4 linked regions of the Homo sapiens genome follow. The protein of the gene in region 1 interacts with the protein of each later gene in a pairwise test. Each region holds a gene or a part of one and is shown in the gene's direction. Other genes may lie near its edges.

The links.
Region 2: the proteins of CCDC32 (region 1) and BDNF interact in binary tests that used the Homo sapiens proteins (3 or more experiments, as listed by UniProt).
Region 3: the proteins of CCDC32 (region 1) and ANXA2 interact in a two-hybrid assay, tested with the Homo sapiens proteins (one study listed by BioGRID).
Region 4: the proteins of CCDC32 (region 1) and GTPBP3 interact in binary tests that used the Homo sapiens proteins (3 or more experiments, as listed by UniProt).

What each region holds. Positions count from the first base shown.
Region 1 is NC_000015.10:40,557,779-40,563,258, reverse strand, and holds part of CCDC32 (coiled-coil domain-containing protein 32), read left to right. Parts: intron 1-231; 5' UTR 232-243; coding exon 244-487; intron 488-5,480. UniProt on the Homo sapiens protein: Regulates clathrin-mediated endocytsois of cargos such as transferrin probably through the association and modulation of adaptor protein complex 2 (AP-2). Has a role in ciliogenesis. Required for proper cephalic and left/right axis development.
Region 2 is NC_000011.10:27,691,976-27,697,455, reverse strand, and holds part of BDNF (neurotrophic factor BDNF precursor form isoform a preproprotein), read left to right. Parts: intron 1-5,480. UniProt on the Homo sapiens protein: Important signaling molecule that activates signaling cascades downstream of NTRK2. During development, promotes the survival and differentiation of selected neuronal populations of the peripheral and central nervous systems.
Region 3 is NC_000015.10:60,359,174-60,364,653, reverse strand, and holds part of ANXA2 (annexin A2), read left to right. Parts: intron 1-130; coding exon 131-225; intron 226-3,599; coding exon 3,600-3,713; intron 3,714-5,480. UniProt on the Homo sapiens protein: Calcium-regulated membrane-binding protein whose affinity for calcium is greatly enhanced by anionic phospholipids. It binds two calcium ions with high affinity. May be involved in heat-stress response.
Region 4 is NC_000019.10:17,339,939-17,343,231, forward strand, and holds the end of GTPBP3 (5-taurinomethyluridine-[tRNA] synthase subunit GTPB3, mitochondrial), read left to right. Parts: intron 1-1,105; coding exon 1,106-1,384; intron 1,385-1,539; coding exon 1,540-1,765; 3' UTR 1,766-2,793; downstream 2,794-3,293. UniProt on the Homo sapiens protein: GTPase component of the GTPBP3-MTO1 complex that catalyzes the 5-taurinomethyluridine (taum(5)U) modification at the 34th wobble position (U34) of mitochondrial tRNAs (mt-tRNAs), which plays a role in mt-tRNA decoding and mitochondrial translation.

The sequences.
Region 1 (5,480 bases):
CCGGAGTAGCTGGGACTACAGGCATGTGCCACCACACCTGTCTAATTTTTGTATTTTTAGTAGAGATGGGATTTTGCCATGTTTCCCAGGCTGGTCTCGAACTGCTGGCCTCAAATGATCTGACTGCCTCGGCTTCCCAAAGTGTTGGGATTACAGTCGTGAGCCACTGTGCTCAACCTTATGCTGTATTCTTAAAGCCAGTTCTTACTCACTTGAGCTTCTGTTTTATAGCTCAGATTCCAAATGAAAATGTTTGAGAGCGCTGACTCTACAGCCACAAGATCTGGCCAGGATCTCTGGGCTGAAATTTGTTCCTGTCTGCCAAATCCTGAACAAGAAGATGGTGCCAACAATGCATTCTCAGACTCCTTTGTGGATTCTTGCCCTGAAGGTGAAGGCCAGAGGGAGGTGGCTGACTTTGCTGTCCAGCCAGCTGTAAAGCCTTGGGCTCCCTTGCAGGATTCAGAAGTGTATTTAGCATCTCTAGGTAAGTTTGACGGCTCTAGGGAAGCATATTGAAGTTCTGTTACATCAAACTTGGTTTCCTATTCTTTTGTGTTGTTGTTATTCCTGTCACACGTATCTGTCAGATATAATTCCAAGGGATGTTTCAAGCCGGCTGTTGGGAAGCAGCCCCCTTTTCCTTGAACAGATCTTTTTTTATTTTTATTTTTAATTTTTTGAGACTTTCACTCTTGTTGCCCAGGCTGGAGTGCAGTGGCGTGATCTTAGCTCATGGCAACCTCCACCTCCCGGGTTCAAGCGATTTTCCTGCCTCAGCCTACCGAGTAGCTGGGATTACAGGCGCCTGGCACAATGCCCGGCTAATTTTTTGTATTTTTAGTAGAGATGGGGTTTCATTTCACCATGTTGGCTAGGCTGGTCTCGAATGCCTGACCTCAGGTGATCCACCTGCCTCGGCATCCCAAAGTGCTGGGATTACAGGCATGAGCCGCCGTGACTACCCGAACAGCTCTTAAAACAGTTTTTGTCACTTCCTGCCTCTGCCCAGTTCATCTAAATTCTGTGTTTGATTTCTTGGCATTCTGTAGAACCCTCTTGCCTACTGTTGGTTGCCCGTATATTCAAATAACTCAAAAGTGTTAAACCTTATGCCATCCTGCAAGAAAATGTGATGGCCCCAGGGCTACATGTGGATTTCTGATGCTGGAGTTTGAAAAACTTACATAAATAGATTGATTGTTGAGAATGGGAGCATATTGACATAAGATTCATTCTGCCTCTTGTTAGCCATTTTATTTTAAAAATATTTCCTGAACACATTTTCAGTACCCTGTCCTGCGGCCATAGTATAAGTATCTAGAGAGATTCCAAACACAGGAAAGAGATTCAAATTGTCCCATGCTAGGGGAAAAAGAAATATCAGTCTAGGGCGGTGAGGGGCAGTCTTTAGAATTGTAATATCCTTTTATTGTGGAACAACCATGAGATTCATCCATGTTTCACAAAGCCAAACCTGGGAATAAGGCTTACCTTGGCCTCCTGAAGTGCTGGGATTACAGGCGTGTGCCACCGCGCTTGGCCCTAATTTTTTTATTTCAATAGCTTTTGGTGTACAAGCGGTTTTTGGCTACATGGATTAATTGTATAGTGGTGAAGTCTGAGATTTTAGTGCACCCATCACCCAAGTAGTGGACATTGTACCCAATGTGTAGTTTTTTATCCCTCACCCCTCTCCAAACCTCCCCACTTCTGAATCTCCAAAGTCCAGTATACCACTTTGTGTTTTGTTTTTTTTTTGGTTGTTGTTTTGTTTTTTTTTTTTGAGACGGAGTCTCATTCTGTTGCCCAGGCTGGAATGCAGTGGCACGATCTCGACTCACTGCAACCTCCGCCTCACGGGTTCAAGCAATTCTGCTGCCTCAGCCTCCTGAGTAGCTGGGATTACAGTCGCCCACCACCACGCCTGGCTCATTTTTGTATTTTCAGTAGATAGAGAGTTTCACCATGTTGGTCAGAGTGGTCTCGAACTCCTGACTTCGTGATCCACCCACCTCGGCCTCCCAGAGTGCTGGGATTACAGGTGTGAGCCACCGTGCCCGGCCAATATACCACTTTGTATACCTTTGTGTACCCATAGCTTAGCTCCCACTTATAAGTGAGAACGTATGGCATTTTGTTTTCCATTCCTGAGTTACTTCACTTAGAGGATAATGGCCTCCAGCTCCATCTAAGTTGCTGCAGAAGACATTATTTTATTATTTCTTATGGCTGAGTAGTGTTCTATGGTGTATATATTCCATATTTTCTTTATCTACTCATTGCTCGATGGGCACTTAGGTTGGTTCCATATCTTTGCAATTATGAATTATGAAACATGCGTGCAGGTATCTTTTTGATATAACGACTTCTTTTCCTTTGGGTAAACACCTCGTAGTGGGATTGCTGGATCAAATGGTAGATTTACTCTTAGTTCTTTGAGAAATCTCCATATGTTTTCCATAGAGGTTGTACTGATTTACATTCCCATCAGCAGTGTATAAGGATTCTCTTTTTACCACATCCGTGCCAACATCTATTGTCTTTTGACTTTTTAATAGTGGCCATTCTGGCTGGGGTGAGGTGGTAGCTCACCATTTTGACTTGCATTTCCCTGATGATTAGTGATTTTGAGCATTTTTTCATATGTTTGTTAGCCATTTGTATATCTTCTCAAATCCCATTGAGAAATGTCTATTCATGTCATTTGCCCACTTTTTGATGGGATTGTTTTTTTCTTTCTGATTTGTTTGAGCACCTTGTAGATTCTGGATATTAGTCCTTTGTTAGATACATAGTTTGCAAATACTTTCTCCCATTCCATGGGTTGTCTGTTTACTCTGATTATTTCTTTTGCTGTACGGAAGTTTTTAGTTTAATTAGATCCGATTTATTTATTTTTGTTATTGTTGCATTTACTTTTGGGATCTTAGTCATAAATTTTTTGCCTAGGCCGGGCACGGTGGCTCACGCCTGTAATCCCAGCACTTTGGGAGACCGAGGCAGGCAGATCACAAGGTCAAGAGATCGAGACCATCCTGGCCAACATGGTGAAACCCTGTCTCTAATAAAAATACACAAATTAGCTGGGCGTGGTGGCGCACACCTATAGTCCCAGCTACTCGGGAGGCTGAGACAGGAGAATCGCTTGAACCCAGGAGGCAGAGGTTGCAGTGAGCTGAAATCGCACCACTGCACTCTAGCCTGGGCAACAGAGCGAGACTCCATCTCAAAATAAAAATTGCCTAGGCCAATGTCTGGAAGAGTTTTTCCTAGGTTTTCTTTTAGAATTTTGAAGATTTCAAGTCTTATATCCATCTTGAGTTGATTTTTGTATAAGGTGAGAGATAGGGATCTAGTTTTATTCTTCTACAGGTGGCTAGCCAGTTTTCCCAGAACCATTTGTTACATAGGATGTCCTTTCCCCAATTTGTGTTGTTATATGCTTTGTCGAAGATCAGCTACAAACCTGGGAATAATTTTTTGAGGAAGGAAAGGCAATTCAGGTAGAAGGAGCTTCTGAGGAAAGACAGAAAGAAGAGTCAGAAGAGAGCTTGCATGATAGCTAAGAAATATCTTGCAAAAACAAAAGGGATTTTGTTAATGATGTACTGGAGGAAAAAGATATGAGAAAAACATAGGTGGAGTGATAGAAAGATAGGGAGTAATGTGAAATTTGCCAGGAAGCCACCAAAGATAGGATAGCAATGCTTGCAGCCATGGCCTAGGGGATGAAAATTCTGCATGTGGTAGCCAAAGCATCTGTTTAATGATGATAAGGAGAAGAGGCAACAATTGGATAAAGCTATAGAACGAGATCCCTTGGCTTGTTGGTGCTGTATGACAAGGGCTTCTAAGAAACTTTCATGAAAGTCAGGCATGGTGGCTCACACCTATAATCCCAGCGCTCTGAGAGGCCGATGTGGGAGGGTCACGTGTAGGCCAAGAGTTTGAGACCAGCCTGGGCAACATAGTGAGACTGTCTTTACAAATACATTTTTAAAAATTAGCCTGAAGTGGTAGATGCCTGTAATCTCAGCTACCAGGGGGCTGAGGTGGGAGGATTGCTTGAGCCTAGCAGTTGTTCAAGGTTACAGTGAGCTGTGATCATGCCACTGCACTCCAGCCTGGGTGACAGAGCAAGACCTTGTTGAGAAAGAGAGAGAGGAAGGAAGAGAAAGAGAGAGAGCAATTTGGGAGGCCGAGGCAGGCAGATCACATGAGGTCAGGAGTTCAAGACCATCCTGGCCAACATGACAAAATCCTGTTTCTACTAAAAATACAAAAATTAGCCACGTGTGATGGTGTGCGCCTGTAATCTCAGCTACTTGGGAGGCTGAGGCAGGAGAATCGCTTGAACCCAGGAGGCGGAGCTTGCAGTGAGCTGAGTGAGATCGTGCCACTGCACTCCAGCCTGGGTGACAGAGCGAGACTCCGTCTCAAAAAAAAAAAGAAAGAAAGAAAAAGTGTAATGAAGACAGTGATGATTTTGATTAGTGAAGACTGGCTTGGAAAGTTAATGATCTTCTCTAAAGTCAGTTAAGAAGTTTTCATCTCTGAAGAAAATAAGAGTCATTTCTGTTGCCTATGGCATGGACTGGGAGACAGCGGCAGAAGGGACGTGTTAGTGCCTGTTTCTGCTTGCCCTATTGAAATCACACCTGACCAGGGACTCAGCATACTTAGAGAGAGGAAGACCTTTTCCGGCCCAAAAGAGTACCTTCCACTTTGACAACTGAGGCCAGACAATATGAAGATTGTTTTTATTGTTAAATAACCTATATCAAAGAGAATCCACTGATAACAGCAATAATTAAAAACTTAAATGTATGCTATGGATAACCCTTTTTATATCCTCAAGGAGAAAACAAACCCTGCAAATATTTAACATTTATCAACTGCAGGTTTTTTTTACATGGGTGAGCTCATGGTGGTAATAACAGGAACAAAAGGTATTTGTTTTGATCAGTGGGTGTTAGCTGATGTGACTTTTTTAGAAATGAAAACAGAACTGCAAATCATAGTTTCTATTGGTTCTAAGCTTGATGTTCACCACCCCACCATGCCATCATTAACCTATGTACTTATAGTTGAAGGCAAACTAAATTAAGGCAGACGGTAAATGGTGATGTCCTTTCTTGTATTCTTCGAAAGGGGAAATCTGTTAAACAATTAGAGTTAAAATGCAAACAAGAGTAATTTAACCTCTATCATCAAGAAGCCATATGGAGCACTGTCATGGGATTAGAAGACATTTGTTTTTATTAGACTCCAACATCTAGGCCACAAGTTGAGCAACTTTAAAAAATGTTGGGAGATTCTTTTTATTAAGAATTTAATCACACATAGAGATTTTAAAGGTCTCTTATTGAGTTCTCATCAAGTCAATTTTAATATCTAATGAACCGTTGGATCTTTCATCATTTTCTCTAATTCTTTCTCATGAGATTTGGAAACCACTTCATGTTACTGTAACAAAA
Region 2 (5,480 bases), on another chromosome or scaffold:
TTCTAAAATCCTGGCTCAAAGTCCGTGGGTTTCCTGTTTAAAAGGGGCGCCATGAAAATGTAAGCTATTCCCTTTTTCCTGGAATCTTTAAGAGTCCCAGCTTTTCAATAGTCAAAATGTAGATGATTGATATCATTTCTTATATGAATAGCACTGGTTTGTAGTTCAGCACGCACAGTGAGCTGGGCACGCCCACCTGATAGTATAGCAGAGAACTTGTTTACATTCTTTTTACATTCATCTTCTAAAACCTGGGGTGCTCTCTCTCTCTCTCTCTCTCTCTCTCTCTCTGTGTGTGTGTGTGTGTGTGTGCGTGCACGTGCGCGTGTGTGTAGAGGGGGAGAGAGAGAGAGAGAGAACTGTGAACTGTGAAATATAACACAGCCAGCAGCTTTGGGTCTCAATCGTAGACTTACTCTTAAGGAAATTTACAGAATGGAAAGGTCATGTTCAAGTAGTTTATTAACATTTTGAGATGTAGGAAATTAATCCCGGAGTACAGAAGAACAATTTCAGACTTCCTGAATAAAAACAGACAGCATAGAGAGTGGATGATAGCTAAACTCTGAATATCTTTTGAGAAGAAAGGCACTCCCATTTCAGGTGCCCATAATATGGATTTGATTTTAGTGATTAAAACATTAATTTTCAACTTGCATCTCCCTGTGTGGAAGAGTTCAATTTGTGTGAGGGGTCTCGCCTATCCAACAAAAGTGAATATGTCCCTTTTATAGGGTAATTGCTAACTTGTCTCAACTTGTTTTCAAACAATTGTTATAGAGCACTCAGTTTCCACTAATTGCAAAATTGTTGCTTAATTGAAGGACTCTCAGCCATCTAGTGCAGCCATTCAGCCACTGGCAGGCTCTGTGATCTCAAACTGTGAATTGCATTTTAAAGAGGAATCGAGGAGAGAATTCTGTGGAATTCTAGGTTTTAAGTGCTGGCTGTTGTTCAATGGAAGAGGAAATCATTTGAACAAGAATCGCATCAAGTTGTGTTGTGATAAATTTTCTTTATTAGGATGAATAACATGCACAGATGAGCTTCAAAAGTGAATGAGCAAACTTACTGGTTACACTCTGCATCCATTTACTCTGTTTAGTATGGAGTAATGTTAGGCAATAAATGATGCTGGCAAATGAAATCCGTATGTTATTTGCATGTGGTATTTAAACCTAGGAAACATAGAGTGGCTTTGGTATTTGTAGGCTTAGTCATGTGTGTCCTAAACGTCCTCTTAAACTTCTACTTAAGGCATAGAATTATTTAATCCTAAATAATTTTATACTTAAGTGCCTCACTGGATTTCCAGAATATTTACACTGTAAAGATTTAGAAAGGTCATGAACCCAATTATTGACTATATGGAATCATTATTGATGGCAGATGCAAAATGGAGCTCACTAATGTACTGACATTGAAAACCTTTTGCAGGGGAGAGGAGGGGGAGTGGTAAATGTGTGTGTTCTTTAAGTGGAACAGGAAGGTATTCTCTTTTCTGTAGAAAAATTTGAGTATCTGGTCAGATAAGTGTGGAAGCTTTCATTTAAATTAAGTATTTAAGTTCAAGTAGAAGCTCTAGGGCACTTATCCTCTTGATGAGACAAATCTTATCAAATATACTAGATGCTAAGAAGTGGCTCATTGCCCTGATGTCTCATTTATAGATTGATGTTTGAGGATGGGTTGCATTAAGTGAGTTAGGGGGCTGAGTGTGGGACAGGAGAACGATTGGAAGGAAGCAAAGTAAATTTACAAGCTTTAGTGACAGCCATAATAAAGTAAAAGTTTATTTCCAGAGAGCCTAGAGAGTAAGGAACGTTATATAGTTTTCCCCAAAGGTTCACTTGAAAGAACTTTTCATTGGTTGTCATGGTAGTAATGTCCTGATTTTGAAATCTCCCAGAACCTAGTAGCTCTTAAACATGCTTTCATCTTGGTTCCTTTGGTCTGACGGAAACTTTATGACGACCCTCTGTGTTTTTGACATGCCTCTGCATTTTTGGAGAGAGGAGGTCAGGCAAGGGAGGATTTCTTAAAACTAAGACAGTATAGTAAGGAAACATAAAATTATATGATAAAAAATCACTGAACTTCAAATTGACTTACTGAAATAAAACCTAGAAGGCAACCTGTCGTTTAATTACAACTAGCTTGTATAAAATTAAAATTTATAAAATGGGAATTCAAAGAAAATAAACGGGCAGTTCCAAGTAATTTAAGCAACTCACCAAAAATTGAAGTAATAGTGCCACCTAGAGAACAAAATCACCAGCTTTACTAGCCAAATGGCTTATTTCCATATGAACCATTTTTCCAACGCTACAGTTACTAGGATTTCCTTGTTACCATATTCAGATCTTGTGAGTGTGTATGGGGGTGGGGGTTGCATGTGGAATTACAGATGAAATTTTAAAACAAGCAGATCCACAATTTGATATATGCACTAAATCCTTTTAACGTTGTAATGTAGCCAAATGTAGAATAGCATGCCAGGAATCAACGGCTAGCATCCTTTTTAACATTTATTATTTTCATGGATATGTACCAAACCGAACCATTGAGTATAAAGGTTCTGATTTTATTTATTTGCTACAGGCAATTCATTATACTTTCTGAGATACAATAACACCAAATAATTTGAGTAGAGAGACCTTTAAGAATGTTTTCGATTTATGATCTACCTTTAACTTTAATGTACTCAGAAGATGTGAGAATAAAATAAAGTCAAATATAAGCAAGATTTTAAACACACACACAAAAAACAAACAAACAAGAAAAAGGAAGAAAATTATAAGGATTGCCTTAACCTTAGAATAGATGAAGGTATACATCTGAGCCAGCACCAAAAAAAAAAAAAAAAAAAGTTATGGAACCAGGAACCAATAATTACAAATTGACTTAAAATTCTTGGATGACAAAAATCTATATTTAGTTCATTTTTGCATGCGCCCACAACAGCATCCAAAACAGTTCTGGGGAGGCACTTTGATAAATGTTGCTGAATGCACTAATAGATTGATTAATGGCTGCTTCAGATTATCACTAGTGATGTAGACAGAAACTTCATGAAAATGGTTTGTCTTGCTGGAAGAAAGGCAGAAATTGGAGGAAAAGGTTTAATAATATTTTTCCCCAGTACCTATTATAAAAGTCATTTAGTTGGCTTAGTTCTATAATTTCTTATGTGTAATTTGATTCACTTATGAAATTGTGAATATATGAAATGTTAAAGTTGATTTAGACAGCAACTATAAGCTTGTGGATTTTCTTTTAAATGTCTTCAAATTTTTAAATGCCAGTGGAGATGCCAGCGACTGTGCTTCAGGGAGTAGAATATAGTATATCTTAAATTTGTGCCAATTTCTGGTAAGCAGAGAAAAAATTGCATGATAACCAAAGAAAGTCATATTGTTTGTGCTTTGTGTTATTCATGGAAGCAATCAGGTGCAGAAAACTTTCTTTTTCAGAAAAAAAAAATTACTAAAATAAAGGTGCGTGTGTGTGTATGCACATATATCTAAAGGGAGAGAGGGAGAAGGAAACTTACTAAATAAAATTTTTGCCACATGGGATTTAGTCTAATCAGTCTTGGTTTTGGAGTTGCTATCATCAGTAGTTCCATTTTGTGATTCTTTCTTTCTGCCTTCATGTGCCTTTGAAAACTGAAACTATGCCCAAATTAAAACAAGTTTTTCTGTCTTTTCACATGTTCACTTATTTCTTGAATGTGTTTTTAAACACAGACAAACTTCTTTTACATCATGTAGAATCTGAAGGTCGAGAAATTTGCAGTCATTTTGCTGGAGAGAGATGCTTGGCGGAGTCCCAGGCCACATTCCTAGGCCAAACTCTCGAAGGTATTCCTCTTATGCAACATTGGGAAAATACATCCAGCACCGACATGTTGGCTGATAATGTGTCTGAAGGCACAGACGATATGCTTATCATATGAAACATAAAGCCAGCAGATATTGCAGACATTCTGTTGAATGATAGAATCTGGATCATTTACATTTACTTAAATGTAAAATACTATGATTAAGTACAAAAAAATCAATTTAGGAGAGAATAGAGAGTTGCGGGCACGGTTTTAGGGGATGACTTATCAGCAGATTGTAGAAAGGAAGCTTGAATGTTTTAAATTAACTGCAAGTTCAGTATAAGCCAGTGGTGTGACAAGAGGCTGTTATCATAGCTACTGAAATTTTGGGCTGCACTGCTAGAAATATAATACTGAAATGGAGAAGCTAATAATTCTTCACTTTTTAAATAGACTGTATCTAGAATATTATCATCAGTTCAAGGAAATGAAATAAGTTGTTTTAGGTACATCATCGATAAATTAGTGTACATTCAAATCACTGTGACCAGGATGCATAGGGAATTTGAAAGCATTGCATGTGAGCAATGGTTGAGGGGACTTGGAATGCATGACTTAGGGACAAGAAAACTTAGGCTGGAATGGCAAGTGGTTTTTGAATGTTGGGTTGAGAAGAATTCTAAAACTGTGAAGGATTAGTAAAAATAACATTCAGATTGCTAATGCCTACTGTGGCTGGGAGATTAGAGTGTCAACATGTGTGATGTATTTTTGACATCCTTATTTTGAGGATGGGCTTCAAAGATTTGACGAACTGTCATAAGTGTAATTTGTGTTGCTTCAGACAGCAGTTCTAGAACCAATGATGTAAATTTAGATACTCTACATGGTAGTTAGAAAACTTTCCATTAATTTAATTTAGCAAATATTGAATGCTCACTGCATACAGAGCACTTTATTAGAGGAATATATAATAAAGAAAAAAGAGGTCTGGTGTGGTGGCTCATGCCTGTAATCCCAGCACTCTGGGAGGCTGAGGTGGGAGGATCACTTGAGCCCAGGAGATCATTACGAGTCTGGACAACATAGCAAGACCCCATCTTTACAAAAGACAAAAAAAATTATCCAAGCCTGGTGACAGGCACTTGTAGTCCCAGCTACTTGGGAGGCTGAGGCAGTAGGATCGTTTGAGCCCAGGAGGTTGGGGCTGCAGTGAGCCGTGATTGTCCCACTGCTCTTCAGCCTGGGTGACAGAGTGAGACCCCGTTGGAGGGAAGGAAGGGAAGGAAGGAAGAAAGGTAGGAAGGCTGAAATGAAACCCTTTTAGAAATGACACTAAAATGGGAGGTTGGAGTAAGGTATTTTCTGAAGTGCCTTTGTACTTGTTTTTTTCTAATGCATTGGCCATAAGTCTGCTCCTTATTTATAGTCCATAAACAATCCTAATGAGAACAGTTATATATTTCTGCCTTTGAATCATCTACTTGAAGTGTTTAGCATCATGAATTGAGTATCAGAAATCCCTCCCATTTCTTTGCAAAGCGCTGTATTTTACTTTTCCTTATTTGTATACAGATTCTCAAAATTGGCTATTTTTCCTTTGGGTTAGACAGAACAGAATGTCTGGAAAAAAAAGTTCTTATCAAATTCAGGT
Region 3 (5,480 bases), about 20 Mb from region 1:
GGTGTCTGGGTATTTCAGTTTGGAAAACAGTATATAAATTTCAGTTTGAAAAAGTCTGCTTGACACCTTCTATGTAAGCCCAAAATACTAGAGTATACTGAGTAACGATTAACAACTTGTATTTCCATAGGTGTGGATGAGGTCACCATTGTCAACATTTTGACCAACCGCAGCAATGCACAGAGACAGGATATTGCCTTCGCCTACCAGAGAAGGACCAAAAAGGTACAGGCAATTCCAGGGATGGAGGGCATTTCTTGTTGAATTTTTGTTTCCTCAGACATTGCTTTTTCTTTTCATGAATTGTGGCTCTCATGCGCAAAAGACTTGTGGGACCCTTGGATATCTAAGATTTTCTTCTTAAATCCTTGTAAGAGTCACTGCACATGTGTGTGTGCGTGTGTGCACGCGCGCGTGCACCTCAGGTCATCAGGCATTAGGTTCTCATAAGGAGTGTACAACATAGATCCCTCGCGTGTGCAGTTCACAGTAGGGTTCGCGCTTCTGTGAGAATCTCATGCCACCGTTGATCTGAGAGGAGGCAGAGCGCAGATGGTCACGCTCGCTTTAGAGTGCTTGGGAGCTCCTGTGTAAGGACAGTACCCTCCCCCAACCCAGGCTACCTGGAGGGAGAGCTTCTGGGAATAGAAAGTTAGGAATAGGGAACAACAACAATAACAACAACAGGCACCATTTATTGAGTGCTTACTTTGGGCCAGGCACTGTGCTCAGTTTTGTACATGTAGCAACTCATTTCATCTTTATGACTTCTGCTGGTTCTTGATAAGATGTTTCTAATTTAATTTTAGGATACTAGCCTCCACTGAGTGTTGATCCTAACAAGCTCCTCTCATTTTAAAAATATACACTTGAATTCTTAAGCTTTTTGCAACGAGTGGGCTTAGTTGTTAGTTCATTTGGTCTGCAAAGCTATCTTCAACATGCCATGCTCCTACTATTTAAAGGGTCTTTGTGTGCTTTTTCCCTTTGCTTGTCCACTAGTGGTTAAGAAACAACCAGTGCGTGTTCGTCCTTTATTTTGTCAGTTGTAGGAAATTTTATTTTTAAGGACGTGCTGCTTTATTTTTAACTTCTTGCTATTAAAAGCTTTTGATTTATTCTTGGACAGTGCAGTAAGTGTGGCTTCCTGCAGCTCCCGTTTGACTTATGGCTTTCACTTGTAGCCACAGTGGAGGTGAGCTGGAAGGATTCTAGAAGAGATATTTCTGCCCTTGGGATTGACATGACCAGCAGGGTCCTGGGAGTTGCAGGTCAAGCCTTGCTACACTTCCATCCCCCGCACTCTAAATGGTTGGAAAGGACATAAATAGGAAAGCATCTGGCTTCTTTCATCTCAAGTGCATTAAAATTCTTCTTTCACTAGAAGTGTATTAATCTTGTGTAGTGAGGCATAGAGGGGAGTGTTTTATTTCTGCAGCTTCCCAAAGGGGTCTGTGAGCTGGTAGAGCCAAGTTCCCAGTGGAGCAGAAGGCTCATCTCTGGATAGCAAGCAAAAAATTTGATCTTTCAGCTGTCACAGAGTATGGTCTTGGAATACATTTGGGTGTGTACACACACACATAGAAGCCTGAAACTTTTTTTTTTTTTTTTTTTTTTTTTTTTTGTGACAGGGTCTTGCTCTGTCACCCAGGCTTGATTGCAGTGGTGTGATTCGGCTTACTGCAACTTCTGCCATGTGGACTCAAATGATTCATCTCAGCCTCCCAAACTGCTGGGATTACAGTCATAAGCCACCACACCCAAAACCTAGATCTTGGTTTTAGATTAGATATATGTAGAACAAAGCTCCCACATACCCTCTAGGAGGGAAGATATTACCAGAATTATGATGAGGTCCCAAGATCTCACAGGCTTTGCTGTGTGCTGGGGACAGCTCATCATCCTACTAATTCTTGACTCTCAGCCTTAGGCCAAGGAGAATTATGTATCTTTTATAAAAGATATGTAAACTACTTGAGATAGTTTCAAGTGAAACAATCGGCTGTTTGTGAAATAAAGAAGAAAATTTGTGAAATAAGGAAGATTTGTGCTGCAGAGTTCTTTAGGGATACGGGCTGCAGCTGCCCAGGTGATGAGCTTGAAGAACCTAGGCCCGGCTGGCAGAGTGGAGAGGAGCTGGGAGAGACAGCTGCTTTTACGACTCTTTCATGTTCTAGCAGACGCCAGATGCGAGGCTTCTCCTTACAGGGAAGGGTTATGTTTGATTTATCATACATTTCTGGAGTTTTTGTTTAGTTTTTGTTAAATGCAAAGCTCTGTGCTGGACATTGTGAGAAACAGGAAGTTGAACGCCCATAAGGAGTTTAGAATAGAAGTGGAAGAAGTCAGTAGGTGCCCAAATGCTATTTGAGGTTTGAATAGAGAATGGGTAGAGGGGAGTGTCAAGGGTAGGCTAAGTTTGGAGTTACCTAACCTCAAAGTTCCAAACTGGGAGACTGGTGTTATAATTGGGAGCTACTGCTTTTACAGTCCCCTCCTAAGTGCCGTGTGTTCCCGGGACATTGGGAAGCAGGAGAAAATGGGTGGTGAAAGCCAGGTGGCTTCTAAGATCCATGTCAGTTCTAACACTTTTGACATCTACGAATGATTCAGCATGGTTGTCTCTGAAGCATGCTGCAAATCACCTCTCGTAGCCTGCAAGTACCTGTAGGGGCTAAGCTTTGTAGATGCCACAGGTGCTCTTAGAAAGCAAGGAAAGAAAGAAGAGAGAGAAGAAAAAAAAAAAAGCGAAAAGAAGAACATTATTTCAGTAGGAGGCTTCAGTCATCAGCCATGATTTGTAGGAAGTTTAGCTCGAGGAAGCATCGCTAAAAGACACATTGAGTTGGGGTGTCTGTCTACATACATGGGTGCTGACCAGACCTCTGACAAATTTTTGTGTTCATGGTGACAGTGGATCCAACCCTTAAGAAATTACATGCAGCAGGGAATTCAAGGGGGCCAGTTCGGGGGTGTTAGTTTCCTATCACTTCCATTAAACACCGTCCGAGTTTGGTGTGGACAAGGAGATATTTTCTCAGTATTAGATGAAGTGTTTTGCATAGGAAAGTTTCATGACCTCACTTCCAACTGTGTTGCGGCCTCTGGTTCCTTCTGGTGACTTTGAGGAGCTGCCGCTGGAATGGCTGCCCCCACGTCTTTTACAGTATATCGGGAGGCCACAAGATCTGCTTGCCAGGAGGCTGTCTGCTCAAACATCTCCTTCTTAGCAGGGGCCTTGATCTCCGAAAGCGTCCTGCCTTCCACGGAGTGTTACTGCTTTCAAGCATATTGCAAAGTGCCTGCACTCTCACAGCTTTCTTAGGAATCACATACGACTCCAGTTTCCTTTTATTGACCGGGGAAGACGGCAAAATTAACTTGGATTTTAAGGAATTTCGTTGAAGCAAAGCCTGATGTTTATGTTTCTGAGATGTGGGTCTGTTGAAGGGAATGCAGTTGAGGGCGTTTGACCCAAGACTCCGGAGTGGTCAAAGACTCACAACCTGCTTCACAAAAAGATCCCTCTTACTTTTGTTTTACTCACTAGTTTTAAAGTAAAATAAATATTTTCCTTATGATTGCCTGTTATCTTGAAGGAACTTGCATCAGCACTGAAGTCAGCCTTATCTGGCCACCTGGAGACGGTGATTTTGGGCCTATTGAAGACACCTGCTCAGTATGACGCTTCTGAGCTAAAAGCTTCCATGAAGGTAAATGCATGTGAGATGTCATCTCTGTCAAATCTGCTATTAATTTTGTGAATTACAGCTTTCTGAGTGTAATTTGGTGATTTTCAGTTTTGTTGAATTCTCATTTGGAACCATTTTTTAAAAATGAACTGAAGTTATATGTCTCAGGATTTGTACCAAAAATATTTCAATTACTTGTTTTAAGACTGTAAAGAAATTTCATGATGCTGAGAAGTCAGTTACCAGCTGCTACTACTCAGCACCTGGGCAATTGGAATACCATTTGGGAAAACTACTTCCTTGATTACACTTCCTCCTTTAAAAAGATATGTTGTGATATTAAGGCAAGAAAAAAAAACTCATAGCTTTTGTTAAGTGAAGCTTGCAAATTCTGCCCATCCTTTCGTGGGTGTTTCTTCCTCCCATACTCTCTCTGTCAGTACCATTTGTTTCAAATTCAGGCAGAATCAGAACATCATAGTGCATATAAGGGGTAATTCTGGATGAAGAATCGTACCTGAATCGTACCTGTGAGAAAGTAACTGTGAAGTCTCAATGCACGTTATCTTTTATGTTTTTCTTTTGTAAAGTTCTTTTGAACCTGGAATTTTAGGTTAAATTAAGTAAAAACTGTAGATTGGAAACCTCCTGAACTTTGTGCATACTTAAAATATCAAGTTTTTTGTTTTGTTTTGTTTTGTTTTTTGAGATGGATTTCGCTCTTGTTGCCCAGGCTGGAGTGCAATGGCGCGATCTCAGTTCACTGCAACCTCTGCCTCCCGGGTTCAAGAGATTCTCCTGCCTCAGCATCCCGAGTAGCTGGGATTACAGGCATGCGCCACTACGCCCAGCTAATTTTGTATTTTTAGTAGAGACGGGATTTCTCCATGTTGGTCAGGCTGGTCTCAAACTCCCGACCTCAGGTGATCTGCCCACCTTGGCCTCCCAAAGTGCTAGGATTACAGGCGTGAGCCACCGCGCCTGGCCAACATCAAGTTTTATATAAATGCAATAGATGCACACACATTAATGTATGTTGTACTGCAACACATTTGGACCCTTTTCTTAGTGTGGGTCTGCAGCATTTGAACAGTCCGACACTGCCCTCTGCTGATATACATGGGTAAAGTCTGCGCTGTAGATGAGGGAAACCATTGGTCTTGATTTTTTATTCCGAGTCTGTTTTCTCTGATGCCACTGTTCCTGAATTATGAACAGTCTGAGCTGTAAGCCTGTCACCAGAGCTAATGTCACAGTTCAGTTGTCATCCTTTTCCCAGAGAACACAAGAGTGAGGGTGCTTCGGACACTGGGCATCTCCAAAGCCTGGAATTTGATAGCTCAGGGCTGCTGTAAGATTTGTTGTTAAGTCTCTTTCTTCCTTTAGTTCTTCAGCTTAGCCCAAGCTGTGCTCAGTTTATTTTAGCGGACTTGTCTGAGTTTCCTAAGTAGACTGTACTGCAGAAAAGACGTCATTAAGAATGATAAAATGTCGACAACATTTCATGATCCTGGTTGATAAAAATAGCGCTCCTGAAAACCGAGTCTGTGGACCTTTGGAGGCAGGGATGAGTCAGCCTCTCCTAGGTTTCTTCTGACCATCAACACTTCAGATCAGTTTGTCTTATTTTCATCAAGAATCTATTTAGTTGTGATTCGAGTGGCTTTACTGGTATCTATTACTAGGTATTAGGGACTTGAAACAGACCTTTTTGAGCTGTCAGTCACTGTTGTAATCTATGTAATTGGGCCCAATGGAAGGTGCTTTAACTGCTGAAGCTTTGACCCT
Region 4 (3,293 bases), on another chromosome or scaffold:
TAGAGATGAGGTTTCACTATGTTGGCCAGGTTGGTCTCTAACTCCTGAGCCTCGGCCTCCCAAAGTGTTGTGAGCCCACCGCACCTGGCCTGGTGTTTTGTTTTTGTTTTTGAGACGGAGTTTCGCTCTTGTTGCCCAGGCTGGAGTGTGCAGTGGTACAATCTCGGCTCACTGCAACCTCCGCCTCTCGGGTTCAAGTGATTCTTCTGCCTGGGCCTCCCGAGTAGCTGGGATTAGAGGCGCCCACCACAATGCCAGGCTAATTTTTTGTATTTTTAGTAGAGATGGGGGTTTCACCATGTTGGCCAGGCTGGTCTCGAACTCCTGATCTCAGGTGACCCGCCTGCCTCGGCCTCCCAAAGTGCTGGGATTACAGGCGTTAGCCACTGTGCCCGGCCAGTGATTTAGTTCTGATTAAGTCCTGCCCCCGGCCCTCCGGACATGTTTCTCATCCCTAAGCCCTCCGCCCAGCCCTCACGTTCTGCCCCGCCCTCTCGTGCTCTGTCCCGCCCTGGCACTCCGCTCTGCCCCTTGCGGTCTATCCCATCCCCTGTGCTCTGTCCACCCCCTACATTCTGCCCCACCCCTGGTGCTCTCTACCCCTTACCCTGTGGTGTGTCTGGTCCTTCTTGCTCTGCCCCGCCACTCATGGTCGCCCCACTCCAGTGCTGTACCCGGCCCCTTTTGCTCTGTCCCAGCCCCTGTGCTGTGCCCTGTCCCTCTTGCTCTGCTCTTCCCCCTGCACAGTGCTCTGCCCCTCTTGCTCTGCCCCGCCCTCCTGTGCTGTGCCCCGCCCCTCCTGCCCTGCCCTACTCACTGCACTGTGCCCAGCCCCTCCTGCTCTGCCCCGCTCCCGCACCGTGACCGCTCCTCTTGCTCTGCCCTTCCCCCTGCACTGTGCCCCGCCCCTCTTGCTCTGCCCCACCCCCTGTGCTCGGCTTGGGCCCCCAACATTCTGCCGGTCCCCTGGTACTCTACTCCTCCCTCCCGACCTCACGCTTCGCAGCTCCCCCAGTGCTCTGCCTGGCCCCTCTAACTGTCCCTCCACCCAGTGCCTTCAATTGCTCAACCTGGGATCCCCGCTCAGTTGACCTTGCTCCCGCAGGCTAGAGCAGGCTGACCTCATTCTGGCCATGCTGGATGCTTCTGACCTGGCCTCTCCCTCCAGTTGCAACTTCCTGGCCACCGTCGTAGCCTCTGTGGGAGCCCAGAGCCCCAGTGACAGCAGCCAGCGCCTCCTCCTGGTGCTGAACAAGTCGGACCTGCTGTCCCCGGAGGGCCCAGGTCCCGGTCCTGACCTGCCCCCGCACCTGCTGCTGTCCTGTCTGACGGGAGAGGGGCTGGACGGCCTCCTGGAGGCGCTGAGGAAGGAGCTAGCTGCAGTGTGAGCCCCCTCCCACTCCCAGCCTCCCCTGACCCACAGTTTAAGTGTGGGTCCCTCAACTTCAATTTCTGAACCTACAAAATGGGTACAACCATTTCCCCTTCAAGGGATGGTTGTAAAAGGTCGGGAGAGACCATGTCTCTTGTCTCTTCCAGGTGTGGGGACCCGTCCACAGATCCCCCGCTGCTGACCCGAGCAAGGCACCAGCACCACCTCCAGGGTTGCCTGGATGCCCTCGGCCACTACAAGCAGTCAAAAGACCTGGCCCTGGCGGCAGAGGCGCTGCGGGTGGCCCGGGGTCACCTGACCCGGCTCACAGGTGGAGGGGGTACCGAGGAGATCCTGGACATCATCTTCCAGGACTTCTGTGTGGGCAAGTGACGGGATCCAGGGAAGTCGCACCCAAGCTGCGTGGAGACCCAGGAGCCTCGGGGGATCTGGAAACAGTTTAGGCCAATTGGGATTCTCATTCGCCTGGGAAAGAACTTGATTCTCAAATAGTGAAGCAACACAGCTGAGAGGTAGTGAGATCCCTGCAGGGACTCCCTGGAGATTCAGGCCCTGGAATGGGGCTGAATGGAGGTCCCGTTCGACCCTTGATGCTGGGGCATCCGGGTTGGGATGGAGATAGGAGGATCTCAGTATATTTGTTTCGTAGTTTTTTATTTATTTTGCAAATACCAAAGGAATGTAAAAAAAACTCAGGTGATCTAGAAGTGTTTATTTTCTTCCCTTCCCTTCCCTTCCCTTTCCTTTTCCCTTTCCCTTTCCCCTTCCCCTTCCCCTTCCCCTTCCCCTACCCTTCCCTCCTCTGTCTATTGCCCAGGCTGGAGTGCAGTGGTGCGACCTTGGCTCACTGCAACCTCCATCTCCGGGGCTCAAGCGCTTCTCCTGCCTCAGCCTCCTGAGTAGCTGGGATTACAGGCATGTGCCAGCATGCCCGGCTAATTTTTTTCTTTTTTTGAGACAGAGTCTCGCTCTGTCACCCAGGCTGGAGTTCAGTGGTGCGACCTCGGCTTACTGCAACCTCCACCTCCCGGGTTCAAGTGATTCTCCTGCCTCAGCCTCTTGAGTAGCTGGGACTACAGGCGCACACCACCACGCCAGGCTAATTTTTGTATTTTTAGTAGAGACAAGGTTTCACCATGTTGACCAGGCTGGTCTTGAACTCCTTGACCTCAGGTAATCTGCCTACCTTGGCCTCCCAAAGTGCTGGGATCACAGGCGTGAGCTATCACACCTGGCCCCAGAAGTGTTTCAACATGGAAATTTTCCTTAGCCCTTCTGTGGTTGTCATGGCTTAATGTGTGTCTTTCCAGAACTTTGAATGTTTGCATACTTGTGGATGTACCTTTCAAATATGTTTGTCTTGTGTATCATATATAAATGGTATTGTGTTCATTGCTCTACAAATTGTCATTTCTTTTTAAAAAAAAAACAGAATTATGGAGATGGGGGGTCTCACTATGTTGCCCAGGCTGGTCTTGAGCTCTTGGACTCAAGCCATCCTGCTGTCTTGGCCTCCCAAAGTGCTGGGATTACAGGTGTGAGCCACGGTGCCTGGCCTCATTCCTTTTTTAGTCTTTAGTCTTCTTTTTTTTTTTTTTTTTTTTTGATGGGGTTTCACTGTGTTAGCCAGGCTGGTCTTGATCTCCTGACCTTGTGATCTGCCCACCTGTGGCCTCCCAAAGTGTGTGTGTGTGTGTGTGTGTGTGTGTGTGTGTGTGTGTGTGTGTGACAGAGTCTTGCTCTGTTGCCCAGACTGAAGTGCAGTGGTGTGATCTCAGCTCACTGCAGCCTCTGCCTCCTGAGCTCAAGCCATTCTCGTGCCTCAGCCTCCCGAGCAGCTGGGATCATAGGTGTACCCTACCACACCTGGCTAACTTTTGTATTTTTAGTAGAGATGGGT